6 separate regions of the Homo sapiens genome follow, and regions 1, 2, 4, 5 and 6 are each linked to region 3. The links come from fine-mapping of genetic effects on gene expression. A gene starts in region 3. Each other region holds a variant in brackets. All regions are shown on one strand. Distances are from middle to middle. Region 1 overlaps GLB1 (galactosidase beta 1). Region 2 overlaps SUSD5 (sushi domain containing 5). Region 3 holds the start of GLB1 (galactosidase beta 1). Region 4 overlaps CRTAP (cartilage associated protein). Region 5 has its middle 37 kb from the start of CCR4. Region 6 overlaps GLB1 (galactosidase beta 1).

Region 1 (4,088 bases), 67 kb after region 3:
CCCTGGCAGGGACAGGGGAAGCAAGTTCAATTCTGGGCTTATTCAGCTCAATATTTCCAGGAACATCCAGGTAGACAGATTTCTCCATAAGCACCAACACTTAATAGTAAGACACTCCAGGGAGAAGTCGGAAAGGTTGGCGCAGATTCTGGGGCGATCAGTGCAAATGGAAGCCGAAGTCCAGGGAGAGGTTGAGACTGCACATGGGGAGCTGACTGAGGAGGGCAATGGGCCAAGCAAAAGACAAACCCAGGGGATCCCAAGCTTTAACAACTGGGCAGAGTAAGAGAACCCACAAAGGAGACAGAGTCTTTAGAAATTGCCAGGCTCAGTGGCTCACGTGTGTAATCCCAGCACTTTGGGAGGCCGAGGTGGGTGGATCACCTGAGGTCAGGAGTTCGAGACCAGCCTGGCCAACATGGTGATACTCCATCTCTACTAAAAATTAAAAAATTAGGTGGGCATGATGGCGTATGCCTGTAGTCCCAGCTACTCTGGTGGCTGAGGCAGGAGAATCGCTTGAACCCAGGAGGCAGAGGTTGCAGTGAGCCGAGATCATGCCATTGCACTCCAGCCTGGGTAACAAGAGCAAAACTCTGTCTCAAAAACAAAACAAAACAAAAAAAGAAATGAATGTAATTCAATAGCTTATGATAGATTGCAGCTTAACATGTCATATTTTCCCTCTTTTTTTGATATTTCTGGTTTGAAAGAGAAATTAACTACAAGATTTAGTGGAGATTATATATATATATATATATATATATATATATATATTTTTTTTTTTTTTTTTTTTTTTTTTTTTTGAGACAGAGCCTTGCTCTGTCACCCAGGCAACTTCCACCTCCCTGGTTCAAGTGATTCTCTTGCCTCAGCCTCCCGAGTAGCTGGGATTACAAGCGCACACCAATGCACGTGGCTAATTTTTGTATTTTTAGTAGAGACGGAGTTTCGCCATGTTGGCCAGGCTGGTCTCAAACTCCTGACCTCAAGTGATCCACCCGCCTTGGCCTCCCAAAGTGCTGGGATTACAGGTGTAAGCCACCGCACCCAGCCAGTGGGCTCTTTCTTATGAGACTTTGTAGACATTCCATTAGCTGATTTGTTAAATGATCTTCAAAATATTTGCTTGCATCAAGTAAAGGAAATTGGATGGTAGATATCCCCTGTATATAGCTCTACCTGCCTCCTTCCTTCATCAAAGACTCAAAAAGCGGAATATGTCTCCTCTGTAATCCATTTCAAGAACACATTAGGTGGTGATGGGCAATATATTTCACTGACATGGACTCCTGGGGATAATCTCCCAGCAGGCTGCATAAGCCTGTGCTCAGTGGTGAAGGCCCCCAGGCGGTTGTCTTCATATGAATCTTCAAGGCATGGCAAAGCTCATGACATTTGCATTTTAAAAGGTATTTGCTTTGGTGTGGGTAAAACTCAACCAAACATGGTTAACACTTTGACCTCGAGGATGAACCATAAAAATATAGGGCAGCGACCTCCTCTTCCCTACTGATTCCTGAGAGGGGCAGTGGTGAGTTTATTTTTGTATGCTGTCAAATCAACTTAAGACCCATTTTAAGAGTTTTGTTTCTGTTCTTTATAGGGATTCCATCAACGTAAGAGTTCCGCTGATGTTTTGGAAATGGGTCACTGTAGAAATTAATCAAGTGGTAGTGAGGACCTTGATAATTGGAGTGGATTCTGGGATTCCCAAAGGTAGTAACTGGGCTGAGTGGTGAAGAGGGGATGGGAGAACAGCCACAGTGATTTTTTCTGTACTTCAAAAGCTTAATGAAGTTTGAAATTTGATCCAGGATTTGTCTACACTGGCTGATTGATCATCCTGCACTGTTTATGACTGGAATGACATTGGCTTGATACGCAGACACAGCTGTCTCTTGCTGATGTATAGTGCTGGTGAAAACCAGTGTTTTATGTCTGATGGTTACAGATGAGAAAGGCAATATTACTTAGCAACTGTTAAATAGTCTTTTAAAGTGTCACCTGCTCTCTTGTAGTACTGGTCTCTTCGTTTCCTGTAGAGTTGGCTTTTCTAGTCCCTCTCCCAGAGTGATTTCTCTAAAACACTGATGTGATCGCTTCTCAGTCTTTTGGCTAAGATCAAGTGTAGTATCTAAAACACTGATGTGGTCAGGATACCTTCCATGACTTGGCCCCTATATTTTTCCAGCCTCATCTTTCAATTCTCCCTTCTTAGATGTGACTTCCTGGCCTTAAGTTGGAGCTATATACAATTCCATGAATGAAACAGCACTGTT[T/C]ATACCTCCTGGTCTCTGCACCCTCTGCCTTTATTCACCTGGAAATGAAGACACACCTCAGTTACCTTATCTGCAGAGTCTTCTTTGACCCACTTGTCAGCCAAGTTAGTCACATTTTGTTTTCTATCACTTATGTTGTAGAAATCTTTTAAACATTACTTTTCTTTTTTTTTTTTTTTCTTAACTTTTAGGTTCATGGGTACATGTGCAAGATTGTTGTGTAGGTTAACTGTGTGTCACAGGGGTTTGGTATACAGATTATTTTGTCACCCAGGTAATAAGCATAGTACCTGATAGGTCATTCTTTGATCCTCTGCCTCCTCCTACCTACCACCCTCAAGTAGGCCCTGATGTCTGTTCCCCTCTTTGTGTCCATGTGTTCTCATCATTTAGCTCCCACTTATAAGTGAGAATGTGCAGTATTTGGTTTTCTGTTCCTGCATTAGTTTGCTTAGGATAATGGCCTCCAGCTCCATCCATGTTGCTGCAAAGGACATGATCTTGTTTCTTTTTTATGGCTGCATAGTATTCCATGGTGTATATATGCCACATTTTCTTTATCCAGTCTACCATTGATTGTCATTTAGGTTGATTCCGTGTCTTTACTAGTGAAAATACTACTTTTTGTGGTGTATTAATATAACTGATTTATACACATTTCTCACTCTCTGGAATAGGTTTATAAGTCTAGTACCAAGCATAGGACCTGACACAGAGTACTTTCTTAATAAGAGTTTGTTGGATGAATGTATGAAAACATTAGAGGTCTTGGTGAAGGAAAAGCTGGTCACCATTGAATCTAGTGGATTCCACAGGGAAAAGAGCAGCTTCCCGTGTTGAATGTGTCCGGTTAAGTATGAGAAGCAACATTTCTGATTGCTCTGAAAAGTATGATTAAAGCACAAATTATTATGGAAAAATAATGGTTTAGAAGTATAGCATTTTGGTATATTTGTTCATTTCTTTTCTGAAACATTAATTAGCTAAGGTAAAGATGAGGATTTTGCTATATGATAATCAAACTAGTATCAATGAAAATCATCAATATTAAAATGAAAAGTTAGAAAATTGTAGTAAATGGGATAGACAGATGAAAGCTTAATATCTGTATTATAATGAGCTAATATCACTGATCAGAATATCAAGATCTACATAGAAAATTGGGTAAATGATGACCAGGCGCAGTGGCTCACGCCTGTAATCCCAGCACTTAGGCCGAGGCGGGCGGATCACCTGAGGTCAGGAGTTTGAGACCAGCCTGACCAACATGGAGAAAACCCGTTTCTACTAAAAATACAAAAAATTAGCCAGGCGTGGTGGTGCATGCCTGTAATCCCAGCTACTCGGGAGGCTGAGGCAGGAGAATCGCTGGAACCTGGGAGGTGGAGGTTGCAGTGAGCCGAGATTGTGCCATTGCACTCCAGCCTGGGCAACAAGAGCGAAACTCCGTATCAAAAAAAAAAAAAAAATTTTTGGGTAAATGACATAAGCAAGTATGGATACTTGATGAAAATGTGAGTATACACTATTTTAAGAGTCTTATACTCATATCCTTTGACCTAGTCACCCCACACTCAGAGTGTTACTTTTAAAAAATAAAAATTTAAAAGGATAATGCTATAGACATGAAGTTTGAGACTCCATCTCAAAAAAACAAAACGAGAAAAAAGAGGCGACATAGGGTAATATGCTAATTGATGGAACTAATAAATAAAGATATAAGGATATTATTTTAAAGGTACAAAGATAACTAGGAGAGAAGCTGAAAATGGTGATATAACCATAATAGCAAGAAAGGAAGATAAA
Region 2 (4,088 bases), 56 kb before region 3:
TTGTCTATTCTTACATTGCATTTCCATAAACTTCCATCCATTGCATTTCCATAAACTTTAACATTCAGTTAATGTCTGAGATTTTTATTGGAATTGTATTAGATCTGTATAGATCGATTTGGACAGAATTGCCAACTTAATGATCTTGAGCCTTCTACTACATGATCATGGTCTATTCCTCCATTCATTTAAGTCTTCTTTAATTTTGCTTAGCAATGTCTTATATCATTCCATGTAGAAGTCTTGAACATCTTTTGTTAGATTTATTCCTATGTGTTTGGTTTTTTTAATGTTATTGTAAATAGCATCCTTTTAAATTTTAATTTTCTGTTTATTGACAATATTTAGAAATACAATTGATGTTTATATTTACTGTAGACCTAGTATCCCTAATAAACTCACATGTTTTTTGTTGTTGTTGTTTTTGAGTTGTTGTTTTTGTTGTTGTTGTTTTTGAGTCTCACTCTGTCACCCAGGCTGGAGTGCAGTGGTACGATGTTGGCTCACTGCAACGTCCGCCTTCCGGGTTCAAGCGATTCTCATGTCTCATCCTCCTGAGTAGCTGGGATTACAGGCATATGCCACCATGCCTGGCTATTTTTTTGTATTTTATTAGAGATGGGCATTCGCCATGTTGGCCAGGCTGGTCTCGAACTCCTGGCTTCAAGTGATCCACCTGCCTAGGCCTCCCAAAGTGCTGGGATTACAAGTGTGAGCCACCATGCCCGGCCTAAGCTCAGATGTTAAATTTTAGTTACTTGTAATATTCATATGTAGATTATTTGGGTTTATCTATGATACACAGTCATATCATCTGTGAATAATAACAGTATTATTTATTCTGTCCCAGCCTTTATGCTTTTAATTTCCTTTTCTTATGTTCTATACTGGCTCTGTGCCTTTGGAGCTAATGAGGTTTTTTCCCTCTTTTCTTCCAGATGAGGCTGAGGCACACATTGACTATGAAGATAACTTCCCTGATGACAGATCTGTGTCATTCAGAGAGCTCATGGAGGATTCCCGGACAGAGGCAGATGAGGACAGGGGTCAGGGAGACTCCTCTGAGGAGGCTCCAAAACAGGACCGTCTGGTCTCCATTTCTGTGGGGAGAGAAAACATAGCCCGGGATAAAGTCTTTGTGCCAACCACAGGCTTGCCTGGTGCTGGGAGCAGTGTCCCCGCAGATTCACCAGGATCACGGCTGCTCCAGAAGCACTTGTTCTGGTTTCCTGCTGAGGCTTTCCACAAGCCTGGGTTGGAAAAGGAGGTGGATGATGACACCAAAAAGCAGTTTTCTGCTGGAGACAACCACAGTGGTGTAAAATTGGTCCCAGGTGAACCTGAAACCAAGGTGATCTACGGCAACACTGATGGTCCCTCGGGGCCATTTGTGGGCAAGAATGACAGCAAGGCAGGAGATCCAGTGGTGAGCAGCAGTGATGAGTCCTGGTTAGATGGCTACCCTGTGACAGAGGGGGCTTGGAGGAAGACAGAGGCAGAAGAGGAAGAAGATGGGGACAGAGGGGATGGGTCAGTAGGGCTGGATGAAAACGTCCTAGTTACTCCTGATCAGCCCATTCTTGTGGAAGTTAAGAAGCCCAAGAGTAGCACCCTCACACCAAGCGAGGGCATGACCCATAGTTCAGTTCTTCCATCTCAAATGCTAGATGTGGAAGCTTTGGCGCTCAGACCCGTGAATGCTTCCGAGACTGAGGGCATTGGGGATGGTGACTTGACGAAGTACCAGTCAACTCTACCCTGGAGATTCATCACAGAGGAATCTCCCATGGCCACCCTGTCCTATGAGCTCACCAGCTCCACCCTGGAGATATTAACAGTGAACACTGTCAAGCAGACACCTAACCACATCCCCTCAACGATCATGGCAACCACCCAGCCTCCAGTAGAAACCACTGTTCCTGAGATCCAGGATAGCTTCCCATACCTGCTGTCTGAAGACTTCTTTGGACAGGAAGGCCCCGGGCCAGGTGCAAGTGAGGAGCTTCATCCCACCTTGGAGTCGTGTGTGGGGGACGGATGTCCTGGCCTCAGCAGAGGCCCTGTGATCGCCACCATTGTCACCGTCCTGTGCCTACTGCTGCTCCTGGCAGGTGTGGGGATGGTGTGGGGCTACCGCAAGTGCCAGCACAAGAGCTCTGTGTACAAGCTGAATGTTGGCCAGCGGCAGGCTCGGCACTACCACCAGCAGATCGAGATGGAGAAGGTCTAGGCACCTTTGGAGTGGGTTCTCCCAAAGCCACTTGGGAGGAAAATAACTGTGACACATCACACGATAATTCACTAGAGCATGACGCAGGTGGACTG[A/G]GGCTCATCATTTTTTCCTCAGCCCTTTGTTTTATAGGCTGAGAAGTGTCTCTGGAGCACCTGGGAGGGCAGGGAGGCTTTGGTGACATCATCACTCATGTCAATGTCTCCTCCACCATCTGCCCTGGAATTGACTACACTAATCCCAGACCTGTGCTTGGGCCCTGTTTCCAGTGTGAGGTCAAAAATCGCCTCTTCCTTCATCACAGTATTATCTTTTTTTTTTTGAGACAGAGTCTCATGCTGTTGCCCAGGCTGGAGTGCAGTGTCCCGATCTGAGCTCACTGCAACCTCTGCCTCCCAAGTTCAAGCAATTCTCCTGCCTCAGCCTCCCAAGTAGGTGGGATTACAGGCATGCACCACCATGCCCAGCTAATTTTTTTATATTTTTAGTAGAGATGGAGTTTCACCATGTTGGCCAGGCTGGTCAAGAACTCCTGACCTCAAGTGATCTGCCCTCCTTAGCCTCCCAAAGTGCTAGGATTCCAGGTGTGAGCCACATCACAGTATTACCTTTTTGAAGAAAGAAAATCACCAGCTTCATGCCCTGAAATTTTATAAATAGTCATGATAAACCAAGTGTATGAGAGCAGTATTATCTAGGACATGGATATTGAATTATTGGGAGAGGAATATGGAAGAATAATGGGTTGTTTCCTTTTAATGTTGTGATGTTGCTGAGGGCAGATGAACCAAGAGCCAGGACACAGTCTAGAAGCTTTGAGGTTTCTTTTTTCATTGTTTCTTGAAATTAGAATTTAAGACTGACATTTTGTTGGGGGAGTTGAGGAGTGAAGAAACACACATCCCCCTCTGTTCCCTCCATTCTGTGGGACAGTCTGTCATTTATTTTATTTTATTTTCAATATTTCATGGTTAAGGATTTGCCATTATTTTTTAAAAACAAAGTTAGCTTTGTACCAGTAAGTACCATTTCCTCTCAGAAGCAGTGGCCTAGTTGTCCTTGACCAGTCTGTGCCTAGGAATGTCTTGGAATTTTTGCCAGGACTAACAAAACTCAGTCCTTGGTTTCCTCTCTCAGGATTAACCATTTCTCTGAACTCCAGTAAGAGAGAATGACACGGGAGAAAAAAAAAAGAAATGTTTTCAGAGGGCCGAACACCAGGTTATCAAGTATGGGCACATACTTGATGGAGAAGCAGAAGAATCTGTGAAAGAATATGAAATGATCTGTGCTGATCTGTTCTCTAGTGTGGAAACTGGGAGCTCTGTGGAAACAGAATCCATCCTGTCTGTTGGGTAACCCATTTCGTAGCATCTAAATCATCTTAGGGTGGCTCAGCGAGGATGGTTTATGGCAGTGGTTCTCAAAGTGTGGTCCTCAGACCAGTAGCATCAGCGTCACCTGGGAATTTGTTGGAGATGCAAATTCTCTAGTCCCACCCTGGACTCAGGAAACAGGAACCCTGGGAGTAGGGCCCAGTTCTGTTTTTAACAAGCCCTCCAGGTGATTTTGATATGCACTCAAGTTTGAGAGCCTGTTGGTTTATAATAATCTCAAATGTGAACTTCGAGGCCAGCTGAAGCCCTAAAGGCACAGATGAGTATGTGGTGTGTGTTGTGTGGAAGTCAGGCATGGCTGTGTGCAGCTGAGGTGGCATTTGAAGCTGCCTAAATGCCACCTGCAATAGTCTCCTGTATGTTGGCACAGAAATGAAACATGTTATATTTTTCTAATATGAATCACCTTCTTAGAAATAGTTATCAGTGGTAAAAAGTGATGAATGCAACACATTTATTTT
Region 3 (4,088 bases):
CAAATGTTAACATTTTACCACATTTGCTTTTCTTTCTCACGTTCTTTTCATGCCTGGAATACCATTTCTCTCCCTCTCTCTCTCTCTCTTTCTCTCTCTCTCCATTTTTTTTTGTGAACTGTTTGAGAATCAGTTGCAAAGATGATGCCCTTTTGTTTCCTAAAAAACAAGGATGTTCTTTTATATAACCATTACCAAAATTACCATTACCGTTACCCAAATCAATACACTAATACAAAACTATTATTTAATATTTAGACCGTGTACCATTATCAAAATCAGAAAGTTAACATTGATGCGGCCGGGCACAGTGGCTCATGCCTGTAATCCCAGCACTTTGGGAGGCCGAGGTGGGCAAATCACTTGAGGTCAAGAGCTCCAGACCAGCCTGGCTAACATGGTGATACCCCATCTCTACTAAAAATACAAAAATTAGCCAAGCCTAGTGGTGGGTGCCTGTAATCCCAGCTACTTTGGAGGCTGAGGTGGGAGAATCACTTGAACCTGGGAGGCGGAGGTTGCAGTGAGCCGAGATTGTGCCACTGCACTCCAGCCTGGGTGACAGAGTGAGACTCTGTCCCCCCACCCCCCCAAAAAGGAAATTAACATTGATGCATGGTACTAATCTAACCTACAAGTCTAATTCTGATTTCATCAACTGTCCCACTAACATCCTGTATATACCAAGCTTCTTATCGTCATCATCTCTGGTAATTTCCCCAATTATCCAGTGAATTTGATATTATTAGCCCTGCTTTACCAACAAAGAAACTAAGCTCAGAGAGGTTAAGTAATTTGCCCACAGTTACACAGACAGTAAGTGGCAGAGCTGGAATTCCAACTCAAGTGTACTTCCTCCAGAGCCCTTGTTCTTTAATACTGAACTAGAATTGCAGAGCTTGGAAAGGACTTCACAGTGCAAGGACACGGAATTGGTACTACAGGCATGAAAAGAAGCCAGGCACGGTGGCTCATGTCTGTAATTCCAGCATTTTGGGAGTTCCAGGCAGGTAGATTGCTTGATCCCAGAACTTCAAGACCTGCCTGGGAAACGTGGTGAGACCCTGTCTCTACAAAAAATACAAAAATTAGCCGGGTGTGGTGGCGCACGCCTGTAGTCCCAGCCACTTGGTAGGCTGAGACGGGAGAATTGCTTGAGCCCAGGAGGCCAAAGCTGCAGTAAGCCGTGATTGCGCCCCACTCCAGCCTGGGTGACAGAGTGAGACCCTGTCTCAAAAAACACAAAAACAAAACAAAAAAACAACCCCCCAAACCAAAAAACAAAAACCTAAGAAAAGCCAGTAACTGATACTTTCTCAATCTCTCAATGAAATGTCCTTTCTGATACTTTCTCAATCTCTCAAGGACATGTCCGGTAGGAAAGGAGAAAGGAGTGAACAAATAGAATTTTGGCTACTTTGTTATACAATGTAAAAAGGCTTTTTGGAACACCAAGGCATAAACTAAGGTTATTTTAAAAAAGAAAATTTTTTTTTGATACGGAATTTCGCTCTTATTGCCCAGGCTGGAGCGCAATGGCTCGATCTCGGTTTACTGCAACCTCCACCTCCCGGGTTCAAGCGATTCTCCTGTCTCAGCCTCCTCAGTAGCTGGGATTACAGGCGCCTGCCACCACGCCCGGCTAATTTTTGTATTTTTAGTAGAGACGGGGTTTCATCATACTGGTCAGGCTGGTCTGGAACTCCTGACCTCAGGCGATCCGCCCGCCTCGGCCTCCCAAAGTGCTGGGATTACAGGCGTGAGCAGGATTTTCATTCTAACAAGTTCCAGGTGAGTTGATACAGTGGCTCCAGGGACCGACCACATTTTGCTAACCCCCGGCTTAGAGTTATTCAAAGAGCCCGTATATGAGACGCGGATTCCATCTAGGGCGTTTAGGTTTAATGATTAACAATTTCCCTCTTCTGCTCTCTCAAGGCAGCCAGGGAACAGGGAGACCATGATTCATGTCCAATCCCCGAGGCGCGTTATCAAGCTGCTGAAAGCAGGCCCTCCGGACTGCAGTTCCAAAGGGTCCCTTCCCAGGGAAGACGCCTGCAAAACCCAGATAGTACTATCCTGGAGTCACGCGGCGGCGCGCAGCCTCCTAGCCGCCCCCACCCGCCCGGCTCGGCCACAGCGGGGCGGGGCGCGGGGCTGAGCAGGCGCGAGGGCTGGCTGCTGGGCCGACGAGGGGCGGTGCCAGGCCGTGGGTCCTTAGTCAAGTGACGCGAAGCGGCCGGCCTGGGCGCCGACTGCAGAGCCGGGAGGCTGGTGGTCATGCCGGGGTTCCTGGTTCGCATCCTCCCTCTGTTGCTGGTTCTGCTGCTTCTGGGCCCTACGCGCGGCTTGCGCGTAAGTCTGCGGGACCCGGGTACGGGGAGGCATTGCTAGGGGACAGGCTGGCGGGGAACCGGGCTGGGGTCGCAGCCACCCGCGGTCCCGCAGGGCGGGGAGCCTGAGCCCCGAAGTGCCCCCCAGCAGGCTCGCGGCCGGCGGAACGCAGGCAGTGGACCGGCCTTCCCGTCGGGGGCGGGCCGGGCGGGGCGCGCGTCCTTCCAGGCAGCTCGGTCGCTTGTGCGTTCCGCTCCGGCCGCCCTTTGCGCTTGGATCCACTTCCCCATCTGTAACGAGGTGTTGAGACGAGGTGCGTGTAAACATTTCCTAAGTTGGCTTTCCGGGAGGGGATTCCAAGTTGCGCGGGTTAGAGGGTGCCTCCGGCTCTGGTTTGGGGCGCCCTCGCTTTCCCAGTTGGTGCTCTGCGGAGCGCTCCGGAAGGAGAAAAATGGGGTCAGGAGAGGCCCTTGCAGTGGGAACATTGGGTTATTTCCCCTCTGGGTGCTCTCCCTCTTCGTGCATCTTGTTCCTTTCTCACCACTCCCCGTCGCCTGCCCTTTGGCTTGGGTTTTTCTTTGTATTTGTGGGACCGTTTTCCTTCGGCGTTTGGGGGTCCAGGTTGAGGGGGGGAATAGGCAGGCTGCCGGGGGATGCCATCGTTGATCGGGGCAGGGCTGGCGAGGCGAATAGGTGAGGTGCGGGGCGTGCACAGTTGGTGGGAGAGGAAGGACAGCTTCACTCGCTGCGTCCGAGCTGAGGCGACTGGCTGAGGGGCTCCAAAGCGCTGCCTGGGGAGGTTTGCATCACACCTGCGGAAAGGAGAGTGGGTAGTTGCAAGCTGCTCCTCTGCACGTTCCGCGGACCAACTTTGGTTCCTCCAGGGTGTAGGTGGGCTGAGCCTGCAGTATGCTTTAAGTAAGAGCTGGTAGCATTTGACACCGTTGACTTGTAAGTTACACCCTTTAATAACGCTTTCAATAACGTGCCTAGGGCAGAGAAAAGTGGTACATTTATCTACAACCAAGATTGAACATCTTAAGTATTTGGAAAACAGCTGCTGAAAATGTTTTCATTTTGGGAAAAAGTCAGCACAGATTATTTGCTGCTCCCTCTTCACCCCGTCTGTGGTTCCCCTACCCCAGTATGTAGACAGAGTTTTCTTGTCCAGAAGGCCCGTAGGACCTTAGGAGTCAGAGCTAGCCAGCTGTGAGAACCACTGGGGAAGGTGGAACTGGGGCACAGTTCAGGAGAACAGTGGCAGGGTAAGGGGCTAGGGGAAAGGCAGATCTTAACCAGTATCTGGGAGTGGGGGTAGGGAGAGAGAGAAGGATTTATGAACCAGGAACAGGTGGACAGGGTCAATCTGTCTGATGTGAGCTCATCAGTCTTGTGCAGCGTCATTGGGTCAGGGTGGATGCCCTGTGGCTGCCATACCTGAGGCCCACACAGGGAGGCTGGCATCACCCCAGGAATTCTCATTTCAGGTGCCTAGGTGTCCCTCTTGGGCTTCTGTGCCCACAGCTAAAGAAAGATACCAGCAGTCTAGCTTTCCATTATCTCCTTGTTTACATTTCTTTAGGGTTCACGCCATTCTCCTGCCTCAGCCTCCCGAGTAGCTGGGACTACAGGCGCCCGCCATCACACCCGACTAATTTTTTTCTTTTTTTGTATTTTTAGTAGAGACGGGGTTTCACCATGTTAGCCAGGATGGTCTCGATCTCCTGACCTCGTGACCCAGCGGTTCTCAAATT
Region 4 (4,088 bases), 24 kb before region 3:
AGGCGGAGGTGGCAGTAAGCTGAGATTGTGCCACTGTACTCCAGCCTGGGTGACAGAGCGAGACTCTGTCAAAAAAAAAAAAAAAAAAAAAAAACCGAGACTGGGTAATTTATAAATAAAAGAGGTTTAATTGGTTCATGGTTCTGCAGGCTATACAGGAAGCATAGCAGCTTCTGCTTCTGGGGAGGCCTCAGGAAACTTACAATCACGGCAGAAGGCAAACAGGGAGCCGGCACTTCACATGGCCAGAGAAGAAGGAAGAGAGCGGGGAGGTGTTACACACTTTTAAACAACTAGGTCTCATGATAACTCACTCACTATCATGAGAATGGCACAGAGAGGATGGTGCTAAACCATTAATAAAGGATCCACTCCCATGATCCAATCACCTCCCACCAGGCCCCACCTCCAACCCTGGGGATTACAACTGGACATGAGATTTAGGTGGAGACACAGATCCAAACCATATCAGCAGGTGTCTGTCACCCCACTTCCTCCGACAATGCAGTTAAACAGAAGTGCCACCATGCATCAGCACTAGTTACTAGGAAGGGCAACCACATGCCAGATAGTGGAAACTTCAAGGACTTTCTGCTAATTGTTGATTAGACTCGATTAGAAGAGAAATAACAGGAGGCTGAGGCAGGAGAATCATTTGAACCCAGGAGGTGGAGGTTGCAGTAAGCCAAGATCGTGCCGTTGCACTGCAGCCTGGGCAACAGGGCGAGACTTCATCTCAAAAAAAAAAGAGAGAGAGAAATAAACTAGGACCAAGGAAGTAGCTTGGTCTCCAAGAAATAAGTAGAGATCCTGGATACACACAAAACCTGCTAACTTGCAGAGGCCAGGACAGGCCCTGAATAAGCATGGGACCCTCCATTTGGAGTTCTCAGCTGCTCTGGAATGGTGGTATCTGAGGGCACCCCTTAGACCTAGAATTTTCACCAAGCTTAAGGCCTCAGGTAAAGACAGTGGATTTTCTTCTTCTTTTTTTTTTTTTTTTTTTTTTTGAGACAGAGTCTTGCTCTGTTGCCCAGGCTCGAATGCAGTGGTGCAATCTCAGCTCACTGCAACCTCCAACTCCTGGGTTCAGGCAATTCTCTCTGCCTCAGTCTCCCGAGTAGCTAGGATTACAGGTGCCTGCCACCACGCCTGGCTAATTTTTTTGTATTTTTAGTAGAGACAGGGTTTCACCATCTTGCCCCAGCTGGTCTTGAACTCCTGACCTCGTGATCCACCCACCTTGGCCTCCCAAAGTGCTGGGATTACAGGCATGAGGACCGCGCCTGGCCGAGGGTGGATTTTCTTAAACCTCCTGGGCAGGCCACATGCCCTGGAAATAAGACAGGCTGAGAACTGAAGGAGCCTTTCCTGAAGAATGGGTCAATAAGTAGCCAACTCCAGACAGCTGGTTCTGCAGAAGCAGCGGGGCAGCAGCAGCAGCAAGAAGGACCAAGCAGAAAGAGGAGGCCCCTGATCACACAGGAGGGCAGCACAGCCACCCCAAAAGGGCTCCAGTGAGGGCCAACAGGACTAGCTGAATTCCAGATAAGCCCAGGGCACTGACCACACGCACTCGGCTTCGTTCCCCAAACCCTATGAAAACAACAGTGAAGACTATGAAAGGCATAAATTGCTTTTATGGGAGAATGGGAAGGGAGCAAGCAGCAGATGAGATTTCAACAACTTTTGGAAAGGCAGGAAGTGAAATAGTCACAAAGGAGGGGCCAGAGGGGAAGCAAGCTATATGTCCCATTGGCATGCGCAGGCATGAGGGACCACGGGAGGCTGGGGTAAGGCATGGAGCTAGAAGCAGGGCTGCAAGTTTGAACAGGCTGTTGGGGTCCTGGGTCCGCTCCCAGCACCTACCCACCCACCCAAGAGATCATATCTCCCAAAGCCACTCTTCACCAGAGAGTGGCAGTTTATTCTAGAGACTTTACCCATAAAGGCTGAGGAGTCAGGGACCAGACGTAGCAGAGGCCAAGTGGAGGCATGAGGCTAAAATCAGGAAGCAGGTGAAGTATTCCTACTCACCTGGGTGACCCTGTCCCTCTCCCCACACTGGTTCTCAGACACCAGCAGAGGAGTATGCGCACCCCACCAGCCCTGCAGAAGGCTGGTGAAGTCTTCCCTGGAAAACTGACAGATACCCCCAAAAAGAGACTTCCACACATACATTTTCCCTAGCAGTCAAAAAGTGAGCCTGAGATCTGATCACTCTACAGAAAACCCTGTGGTCAGGCCTTGGGAACTATAACTTCTAGTGGATATTTTCCACATATCCCCATTTTCTTTCATTTTTTTTGAGACAGAGTCTCGCTCTGTCGCCCAGGCTGGAGTGCAGTGGCGCAATCTCAGCTCATTGCAACCTCTGTCTCCCGGGATGAAGTGATTCTCCTGCCTCAGCCTCTCGAGTAGCTGGGTTTACAGACATGCTGAGTCACCA[C/T]GCCCAGCTAATTTTTGTATTTTTAGTAGAGACGGGGTTTCACCATATTGGCCAGGCTGGTCTCAAACTCCTGACCTCAGGTGATCCATCCGCCTCGGCCTCCCAAAGTGCTGGGATTACAGGCATGAGCCACTGTGCCCAGCCAAATTCCCATTTTCAACAATGCCCTGCCCTTGCTTGAAACCCAGGCCCCCAGTGCCTGAGTTCCAGAAGACCTTGACAATAGTGAGTGCTCAAAAGGGCGAGATCGTTCTTTCTTATTGTTGTTCTTACGACTAATTCTCATCAAAACTCTTCTTCGTAGATGCGCAGATTTAAGTGTCCTCTACTCTGTCACATCAGCCTTCCTAACTCGTCTTCATTTTCTACCTTAATATATTTAGGGTGCGTTTGTGTGCAAGTGTGTATAAAAATATATGCCTTCTCATTTCATCAAAACTGGAGATTTATGTTTCTATTTCTTGTGTTCCTGGTCATTTTAGATGATTTCCAAGATATGTCTTTAATCTACCCTCTTAAAACTAAATAATTAAATGACCATATTTCTAAAATGTAGCATTTAAAGGGAACATGGCTTTTAAAATCATCACGGCATACAAAATATCATTATTAAATGGATCACTTTGTGCTAAAAGTCAATCATTTCTATTGTCATAATATTCAGCAAATGTCACCAAAAATCACTAGAGGTCCTTAGCTATCAGCAGCTGCTTATGGAGAGACATTTCTTTAACAGTCCAGGTTGCCACTAACTGCCACATAAAAATCCAAACATACTTCATATGACTTGGTTTCCAGGTCTTTAATGTAGTCCTCGGCACCAGGCAGGCTCTTATAATATGCCATGTTCCTCTTCATCATTTCGTCATCAGGATGCTTCAGTAGAAAGGTGTGAGCAGCGGCGATGGCTTTGGGGAGATTATTTGCCTAAAAGGACAAAGAACATAAAAGCTACTCCATGGATGCTAAGTGGTAATTTTTGTAAAACAAGAATATCTGCTTAGTCCTTCAGAAACTTTGTGTTGCTATAACTTTTCCAGCTAAAGGTTCCATGACTTCCAGGGCCCCTCAAGACCAAGTCCAGGCACTGTGAGACAAGTGCTGATTTCCTGAAAGCGACTGTCTGGATGGCCTCGGTCTGCCTTTCCCAATCTACTCTGCACTGGCTACATGCCCCAGGAGGCTGGCCTGTGTGGACTATAACAACAGACTCCCTCGCTCTCTGGCTTCCAAAGAGGTTCACCCATGAGGAGCCCCAGTAGATGACTGAGGAAGGGAAGAGAGTAAGGTCATGTTATTTCATTTCCTGGTTCCCTCCCTGCACAGTCCTCTTGGGCTGCTATGTCCCTTAATTGAAGATCACAGTTCTTCTCAAGGTGACCCTCTCCATAGAGTCTCCCTCCTTCCCGGTTTCAATCACTGCTCTCTCCCCTGCCCCTTTTGGCCTAGGGTTGGTCATATCCCACTGCTATCACCCCTGTGGCAGAACACTATCTCTTGTGGATTCCCCATGCACTGCACACACCTTTGTAAATAACCACCTTCTTAAACTTTCCTCCAATTACCCAATATGACTGCACCATATCTTTTCCACTGGCACCTTGACAAATATATTGTTTTCCCAAATCCCCCACAGACC
Region 5 (4,088 bases), 110 kb after region 3:
ACCACCTGACCTCTTTTCTGGGGACTTTGAAATCAGGAAGTGTCCCAAGAAGTGCCCAGTGAGGAGTCCCCAAGGTTTCAGGGTGTATCCCTTCTAGTGTGATGGATAAGCCCCTCAGCATTTAACTATTTTAGTAGGTGGGTTTGTTTTGTTTTGTTTTTTTCATTTACCCAATAGACATTCATTCAATACTTACTCTAAACCCCATGCCACTGTGTAGGACACATTTCTTGCCCCTCAGGGAGCGCACAGATCTATTAATGAACCATGTAGCTTGTGAGGGGTAGACAATGACAGCGATGAGATCAGAGTGCTGTGAGCATGCTGAATCCAGTCTTAGACTTGATGTGGAGCAGAGACTGGTCAGGGCAGGCTTCCTGGAGTTGAGCCAGGTGAAGAATAAGAGAAGAAGGAGAAAAGATAGGCATGAGTAGAGCAGAAAGTGCTTCTCAGAGGGAGGCAGCATCTGCAGAGATCCAGGGTCTGGAGAGACAATGGAGAATTCCAGAAATTGGTGGCATGTACCTCAATCTGACTGGGGTTGGAATGAACAGAGATGAGGCAGGAGAGATGCAGGGATCAGAGCTATCTCCAACCAGATGGTAGTATCCTGAAAAATTGGTTATTTTCACATATCTTTTGTCCTCTGAAGTTTCTAGGTTCATGTCTTCAACTTTGATGGTGCTTAATAAGAATAATAACATTCATAAAGTGGTTTTAATGTGTTATTTTTGCATACAGTATTTCATTCAGTCTTTATAAGAACCTTTTGAAGAAATAGGGCGGGTGGCATGCAGCTCAGTTTACAGTTTAGGAAAATCAAGAGGTAGGAAGAATTGTGATTTACACAAAATCAGGGGCCTGAAACTCACACCCAAGTCTCTTGCCTCCAAATCCCACACTCTTCTTACTATGCAGATTGCCTTGATTGAGCTGCAAGGAGAAAGTTTTGTATTGTATTTGAGAAAACTCACAACACAGAAGAACAATATTTCAGCCTTGTCTGACATGACAGATCAGGTCTGAGCTGTGGCCCCAGGTTTTGGTGATTGACCCATGAGTCTTGTGTGTGTCTCTGGTGAGCAGAATGCCCGGTATATGTGGGTCCCCAGTGGATACAGGTCAGGGAGCAAGCAATCCTCCACACTGGAAGATGACTTATTCACAAGGCTGGGCATCCCTCTCAGACAAAACCCACTATCATATCTCTTCTGGTTTAATTCATGTTTTGACACTCAGCAAATTCCCCAGGAACTTAGCTGAAGAGTTTCGTGAGCCGGAAGTGCCTCTGAAAGAAGTGAGCAGAGAGAAGGTACGTGGAACTTTATTCATAGTTGAGCAGGCAAATGATGACTCTCGGTTTTTCTCTGGAGGGGAGCTCTTCCTTGAGGTGAAACGGGCTGAGGAGACATGAGAGAGGGCAGAGAAGCACCACAGACTGACATCAACCTGAGGCCTTCTGATGCTAAGAACATCACAACTTCCCTGGTGGGCAACTGGGTTCATCTGTCCACTGTCTGCCATGATCGGCAGATATCAAGAAGCCATTTGCAAAGTCCAAAGGACAAATATGGTAAAATACTCAAGAAACTCTCTGAAGAGTTTATTTGTAGTGGACCAGAGGTCACTGTGCTGCTGCCAGCACCCCACCCCCACCCCAGTGATCTTGATAAGTCTTTCATGGTTTTGTACCCTAAAATTGTGATTACCTGGAACCAAACCTTACCATGCCAAGGGCTTCCACTAGATGGGATTTTTGCAGTACTAAATATCTACAAGAAAAAAAGAGCTTGTAGAAAAAAAAAACAGGAAAAAACAGTTGTTAGGTGGAGGACTAGTTTTATCTAGCTTTCTATTAAAAGCTTCTGTGATTGCCTGATAGGCTGATAACAGGAAGATATTGTTGAAATACATATTCCAGATCCTGTCCTGAAGTCACTGCAGATTCATCTCAGTTCACTGCAAACTCTACAAAAGCCAACCTGGTAAAAGATGGAATTCTGATTGTTCAGGAAACAGAAGTGGAGGACAGAGTAAAAAGACTGAGATTAACTGTCTGGTTTTCTTTCCACTCTGGGCACCAGAATTTTGCCTCTTAATAGCTAGGAAGGAGCCACCCATCTCAAGAATTCAGATAGA[G/T]CAATGCTTTTGAAAGCAACCAACTCTTCACTCTGATATAAAACGTCAGTGCCCATGTTATCTGAATAGTAACATATGTAGAATGTGAATACCATACAGCAGGTGTGAACTGAACTTTCAGTCCCTCCTCACTGAGCAGGACACTTCAACAACACGTTGGTCCCAACTCTTCCTCTTTCTCTTAGTGACCAATTTTGCCATTTTCTGCTCCCATGTTTTTTATACACTGAAATTTCCCCTTCTTCATTTCAGTGAGCCTATCACTTAAGTCCTTGGTCTTTGCACCTTAAAAGTCTCTAAGATCCTTTTTTTTTTTTTTTTTTTTTTGAGATGGAGTCTTGCTCTGTCACCCAGGCTGTAGTGCAATGACGTAATCTTGGCTCACTGCAACCTCTGCCTCCTGGGTTCAAGCAATTCTCCTGCCTTAGCCTCTCAAGTAGCTGGGACACAGGCATGCACCACCACACCCAGCTAATTGTGTTGTATTTTTTAGTACAGATGGGGTTTCACCATGTTAGTCAGGTGGTCTCAAACTCCTGACCTCAAATGATTCACCTGCCTCAGCCTCCCAAAATCCTGGGATTACAGGCATGAGCCACCGTACCCAGCCTCTAAGATCCATTCTTTATGGAAATGTTATTAAGCTCCAATATTCTCTGCAAAAATGCTTGTAGCCTGCATCTCTTTGTTAAATCCAGGACAACTTTCACTCATTCATTCATTCAACTATTAAGGTGTACCTAATACATGCTGGGCATTGAGAATAAAATGATAACCACTTTATCACCCCATCTCTCAGTCTCTTTTTAAAAGAGTATTGAGATACTATCAATAGCAATAATAATAAAAACATGACCTATGCCTTCAAAAGGTTTAGTTAGTAGAAGAGATAAGTAAATAGACAGTTCAATGCAGTCTCATGGGCACCATAGTGAGAGACAGTACAGAGTGGCAGAGCAGCAGAAGAGGGGTTCACAATCCAGGCCTGGGCAGCCAGGCATTCTGTCTTACTGCAGAGCCAAAGACAGGGCTTTGTGTGCACGTGGTTTACAGAGGGGATGCTCTAAGGAGAAAGGAAGTGAGGGAAGGGTGCAGGGCAAGAGAGTAAAGGTAAGCAAGGAGACTACTTTCAGCTTAAACCAACTGTTTAGTTCATGATTCTGCTATATGGTTCTTCTGGTCTGGAACAGGCTCCACTGATGTTGGCTTGGCTCCCTCATGTATCTAGCCTAGGTCAGATCAGGCTGCTAGTTCCAGAGAAACTCACACACATTAATTTCACCACAAAATTGGATGCACCTTGAGTCAAGAGGGCCAGTCTTTTAACCTTCCATCCGTGTCAGCCAGCCATTGGCCGCAGGCTGCCACTGGTGGGAGGGGAGGACTAGTTGTACTGTGGGGAGGTAGTAGGGAATTGGCCATAAAAAAAGAGAAGAGGGCATCTGTGAGCTGTTAGCAGCCAACGCTCATGGTAGCTGGGGACTGGGTACACCAGTCCATAAAGGAAAGTTGGGTGGGCATCATCAGCATCTGCTGTCGGTCTCTAAACTGAGACTTGAGTGATGAGCAATAGTTGGTCAGGTGAACAGTAGGGGAAGAGTATTCCAGGTTAAAGAAATAGTCTATTGCAGCAGTGGCTCATGGCTGTAATCCCAGCAGTTTGGGAGGCGAAGGCGAGTGGATCATCTGAGGTCAGGAATTCATGACCAGCCTGACCAACATGGTGAAACCCTGTCTCTACTAAAAACACGAAAATTAGCTGGGTGTGGTGGCACACACCTGTAATCCCAGCTACTTGGGAGGCTGAGGCAGGAGTGTCACGTGAACCCGGGAGGCAGAGGTTGCAGTGAGCCGAGATCATGCCACTGTACTCCAGCCTGGGAGACAGAGCGAGACTCCATCTCAAAAAAAAAAAAAAGAGAAACAGTCTATGTAGATGGCCAGAACTA
Region 6 (4,088 bases), 52 kb after region 3:
GTGAACATCATCCCTGACAAGGTCGGGATCCTCTGGTCTAGACCCCGCCCCTTGCACAGTGACTGCAGGGGCATTTGTTTTTCTAGTCCTTTTGTATACTCAGTGTTGGCATTATCCATTGGTCTTTGTTGTAGGTCAAGTTCCCAGGGAAACAGACTCTGAGATTACCTGGTAGAAAGCTTATTGATTGTGCTCTCTGGAGCAATGCCTGTAGGATAGAGAGGGAGAAGTGGGGCTATGATGCAGCTTCACAAGTGGCCTCATCCAATCTTAGAGGGAGCTCTGCAGCTGGGTTGGCTGTTCGAGGCACATTGGTCAGTTGTTGGATGTGGGCTATCCCTGAGGGTTGTAACCTTGGGTGAGGCAGCTCAGCACAGGCCAGCACCCAGAGACGGACACATCTGAGAAATGTCAGCAGACAACAGCCCTAGCTGCTGGGAGAATGAGTGAGTGCCCTGGTTCTAAAGGGGGATCCAAGAGGTGCACCACAGCCCCATCGACAGTCTTTGTAGATGCAACAAAGGCCCTCGGATTATGTTTGAACCTCTGTGGCTGATGTGGGTCTGCTGTCATCTCCCGCTGTGTTTGGTTTAATAAGCCCTGGGTTTTCTGCTGATCCATGGCCTAGTCATCTGTGTCTTCACCACTGAGCTTTTCTCAGCCACAGCTTGAGGACGTGAAAAAGTTCAGAGTTGACAGGATTAACAGTCAGAGATGGGGGTCATATCATAAGCCCTGCCATTACTGCTTGTGAGGTGTTAGCAGATTTTTGTGGGGAGCTTCAGATTCCCTGCTTGTCCAGTGGGGGTGATACCTGCTAGAATCACAGCTGTGAGCTTCTGTAGAGAGTGGATGGAAAGAGTCCTTGGTAAACTCTAAGGTGCCTGGTAACTGCTACCTGTAGAAAGAAATTCCTTCCTCTAAACGTTGCATCCTGAGGGTCACGTCTGTGTCTCCCAACAAGTGGTTTTAATGTGTCTTCTAGTTTTCTCTCTCTACAGTGCTGAGCTCATGGATCCCAAAGAACTTGTCCCAGAGCTGCACCATCAGTAATAACTAGTGGCACATTTTTGTCTTCTAGGGGCCAACTCACCCTATGCAGCACAGCCCACCAGCTACGACTATGATGCCCCACTGAGTGAGGCTGGGGACCTCACTGAGAAGTATTTTGCTCTGCGAAACATCATCCAGAAGGTGGGTGCTTTGTATGAGCTGTGGTGGGCTGATCTTGGACAGAGCCTCTTTTGAACTCACTGTGGCTCTGTGGACAACTTCCTGCCTGGAGCCCTCCTGTTTAAAAGGATGGATGAAGGGAGGCATCAGCTAGACTTGGGTTTGCATCTTGTACCCACGTGGTTAAGAGTGAGTCTATGAGCAGATGCTTATAGGAGAGTAGGAGATATAAGACATGTATTTAAAAACTGCAATATATAATACAGTGTTAAATGCTACTTACAGATTCACTTCTTATATGGTGAGAATTCACCCGGGGAAATTTCTGTCTCCATTTTCTTCTCCTTCCAGGCCAGATTATCTTTCCAAAAGTTCAGGTGAGAGGTAGGGTGATGGGAGAGAATGCACAGATCCTCTTGAGACTATAGCCCC[T/G]ATTAAGGCAGCATGGATATATGGGAGCCCCTATCCTTGAGACACAGCTAATGTACTTCAATATCAAAAGAGGTAAAGCTAAGCTCTGGTTTCTTTATTTAATGCATCATCTGAAAAAAGTAAGTTTCCAGTAACCAAAGTGTATAAGAATTATTTCTCACTAGAAAATAACTCCGTCCTTATTTGCAAGAGAGAAGAAGATAAACTATTTTCCTTTTTATGTGTGGCCCAATATACAGACTATGTGATTTCAGAATGAGGAACACCAGATTTTGAACCTGGACACTATTTCTTCAACCTTAAGCCAATTGTGTAAATTCCCTTTATATAAAAGTAGAGGTAGCCGTACTTACCTCACAGACTTGTACAGTTTAAAAATAAATGGCACTCAATAAATGTTTGTTTTCTTCTTTCATAGTCAAATAAATGAACAATAATTATTTATTTACCTAAAAAAAAAAAAGAGTGAGTCTATGAGCAAATCAGTCTACTGATTGTTAATTTGTAAAACTGGGATTACAGCATCTGGTTGTGCTGTAAAGCTTGAAAAGAACGTATGTAAGCCATCCAGGACAGTTCCTGACACATATATGTCTAATAAGTGGTAGCCGTTAACTATTATTTATCTTAAATGTAAGAAAATGTGTGTCTACTTAAATAGCTGATGTACATAGGAAAAAAAATCTTCAGATACTGTGAAGCATGGTGCAGATGTCAGCTGTCAGTGAAGCTTCATTTTTCTATTTGGAGCAAGTGATTGCTGTTTCTGGACTGCATCTGAACTGCTTAGTCCTGCTAGCGTTGTACCCTTTTGAGGCACCTAATGCACCTAGGTGGGGTTTCCTGTCTCTGCTGTGGGTTAAAAGAAAAAACCCACAGTTTTTATGCTCAGTCACCTGAGTTTTGAAGTTAAAAAAACAAAGGTTTTCTGCCTATAAATGGTATGGTTTTTTTTGTTTTAAGTATGATGTCGTTTTAATTTTAAGCATGTGTTAAAATGAATATTACAAATTTTTTAAATATAAAAAATACAATCTAGACTTACCACACTTATAATTTGTCCATTTCATCTAAATTTTCAAATGTATTGTTAAAATGTTGCTTATGTTATTCCTTTATTATGGGTTTAATCTCCACAGAATTTATAGTAATGTCTCCCAAGCTCTCCCTTGTATGTTTGTTCTGTTTTGAAGCTTTCTGTTCCTATCTTTATTATTTCCTTCCTTTATTTGAAGCTTAGCTTTTTAATGCAGCCTTTCTTCTTTTCTAATATAAATATTTAAGGTTATAAATTTCCTTCAAGTACTGCTGTGGCTTTATCTCGTAAGTTTTGATGTGCAATCTATTTCTTACTGTTTGCTTCTAAACATATCTATTTTGATTTCTCTTCACCATTGATATGTGTTTTTTAAATTACTGGAAATAAGTACTTTCCTGTTTTTTTGATTTCTAGTCTTTTTGCATTCTGGTTAGAGAATATAGTCTGTGATACCAATCCCTTGAAAGCTGCTGAGCCTAGTCTTAGAGCCTGACATACACCAATATTAATGGTCAATGTGCGCATAAAAAGAAAGTATATTTTACAGTTGTTGACTATATTCTACATACATGTTCATCAGATTAAGTTTATTAATGGTGCCATTGATATCTTTGATCTGCTTCCTAATTTTTTGTCAGTTCAGTCTACTATTTAGTGAGAGTTGTCCTCATGTATTTCCCTTTGTAGCTCTGCCAGTTCTGAGGTTATGTTATTAGGTGGGCAAATTGAGAATTACATCCTTCAGTACTTAATAGTAAAGGGATTATATAACCCTCTATTTCTAATAAGGCTTTTTGCCTGGAAGCCTTTTTTTTTTTTTTTTTTCTTTTTTTGGTCTGTTATTCATTAACACCATTTACCTGCATACTTTTGCTTGGTATTTTTCTGAGGTATCTTTCCCAATGCTGTAATTTCATCCTTTTTATATCCTTTGTTCTGTTTACATGTGTCCCTTATAAACAGGATATAATCGAATTTTTAAAATATCTAGTTTGAAATTTCTTGTCTTTTAACTGATATATTTATACATTCTCATTCATTGTACTTCTTGATATACATAGATGAATTTCAATTATCTTATTTTATAATTTCTATTCGTTTACCTTTTTGGCTCTTTCTTTCCCTTTATTGCTTTCTTTTAGATTGAGGTTTTTTGTTTTGTTTTGTTTTTTCCTCTTATTTCTTTCCCCCCTCTTCTACTTTGGAAGTTATTCACTGCATTCTAATTTTTTTAGTGGTTACCATTTAAGTGTGACATCTATACCCCCAGAAAAGAACAACTCGTAGTACACAGCTCAGTGAATTTAGGCAACGGGAGCGCAGCCCTGTGACAAACACATAGCTCCCCGGAAGCCCCTCTAATGTCCCTCTCTAGTCATTGACACACATACCCATTCCTGAGCTCACAGCTGTCCTCACCTCTATCACCAGAGATTCATTTTGC

The links. PIP is the estimated chance that this variant, and not a neighbour inherited with it, causes the effect.
Region 1: its variant is fine-mapped to the expression of GLB1 in T cells (TOPMed, PIP above 0.99). The same link has a PIP of 0.9 or more in monocytes after LPS and monocytes after Pam3CSK4.
Region 2: its variant is fine-mapped to the expression of GLB1 in whole blood (TOPMed, PIP above 0.99).
Region 4: its variant is fine-mapped to the expression of GLB1 in monocytes (Quach 2016, PIP 0.93).
Region 5: its variant is fine-mapped to the expression of GLB1 in whole blood (INTERVAL, PIP above 0.99).
Region 6: its variant is fine-mapped to the expression of GLB1 in cerebellar hemisphere (GTEx, PIP above 0.99). The same link has a PIP of 0.9 or more in blood mononuclear cells.

The regions. Positions count from the first base shown.
Region 1 is chr3:33,028,330-33,032,417 of GRCh38, reverse strand. All of the region lies in intron 10 of GLB1 (galactosidase beta 1), which reads left to right. Among named protein-coding and RNA genes, the nearest start is that of GLB1, 67 kb to the left of the region's middle. The variant T/C (reference allele first, on the strand shown) is at 2,283.
Region 2 is chr3:33,150,884-33,154,971 of GRCh38, reverse strand. SUSD5 (sushi domain containing 5) reads left to right here. Exons shown (of 5, transcript NM_015551.2): 5 at 939-4,088. The coding sequence ends at 2,230. Among named protein-coding and RNA genes, the nearest start is that of CRTAP, 39 kb to the right of the region's middle. RefSeq lists an enhancer at 958-2,157. The variant A/G (reference allele first, on the strand shown) is at 2,326.
Region 3 is chr3:33,095,278-33,099,365 of GRCh38, reverse strand. It overlaps GLB1 (galactosidase beta 1), which reads left to right and starts at 2,220. Exons shown (of 16, transcript NM_000404.4): 1 at 2,220-2,355. The coding sequence starts at 2,281. TMPPE (transmembrane protein with metallophosphoesterase domain) reads left to right here and starts at 2,220. Exons shown (of 2, transcript NM_001039770.3): 1 at 2,220-2,647. RefSeq lists a silencer at 2,023-2,632.
Region 4 is chr3:33,119,632-33,123,719 of GRCh38, reverse strand. It overlaps CRTAP (cartilage associated protein), which reads right to left. Exons shown (of 7, transcript NM_006371.5): 2 at 3,227-3,376. Among named protein-coding and RNA genes, the nearest start is that of CRTAP, 7.7 kb to the right of the region's middle. The variant C/T (reference allele first, on the strand shown) is at 2,450.
Region 5 is chr3:32,986,564-32,990,651 of GRCh38, reverse strand. It overlaps a transcript of GLB1 not described here. Among named protein-coding and RNA genes, the nearest start is that of CCR4, 37 kb to the right of the region's middle. The variant G/T (reference allele first, on the strand shown) is at 2,140.
Region 6 is chr3:33,043,226-33,047,313 of GRCh38, reverse strand. It overlaps GLB1 (galactosidase beta 1), which reads left to right. Exons shown (of 16, transcript NM_000404.4): 10 at 1,082-1,194. Among named protein-coding and RNA genes, the nearest start is that of GLB1, 52 kb to the left of the region's middle. The variant T/G (reference allele first, on the strand shown) is at 1,606.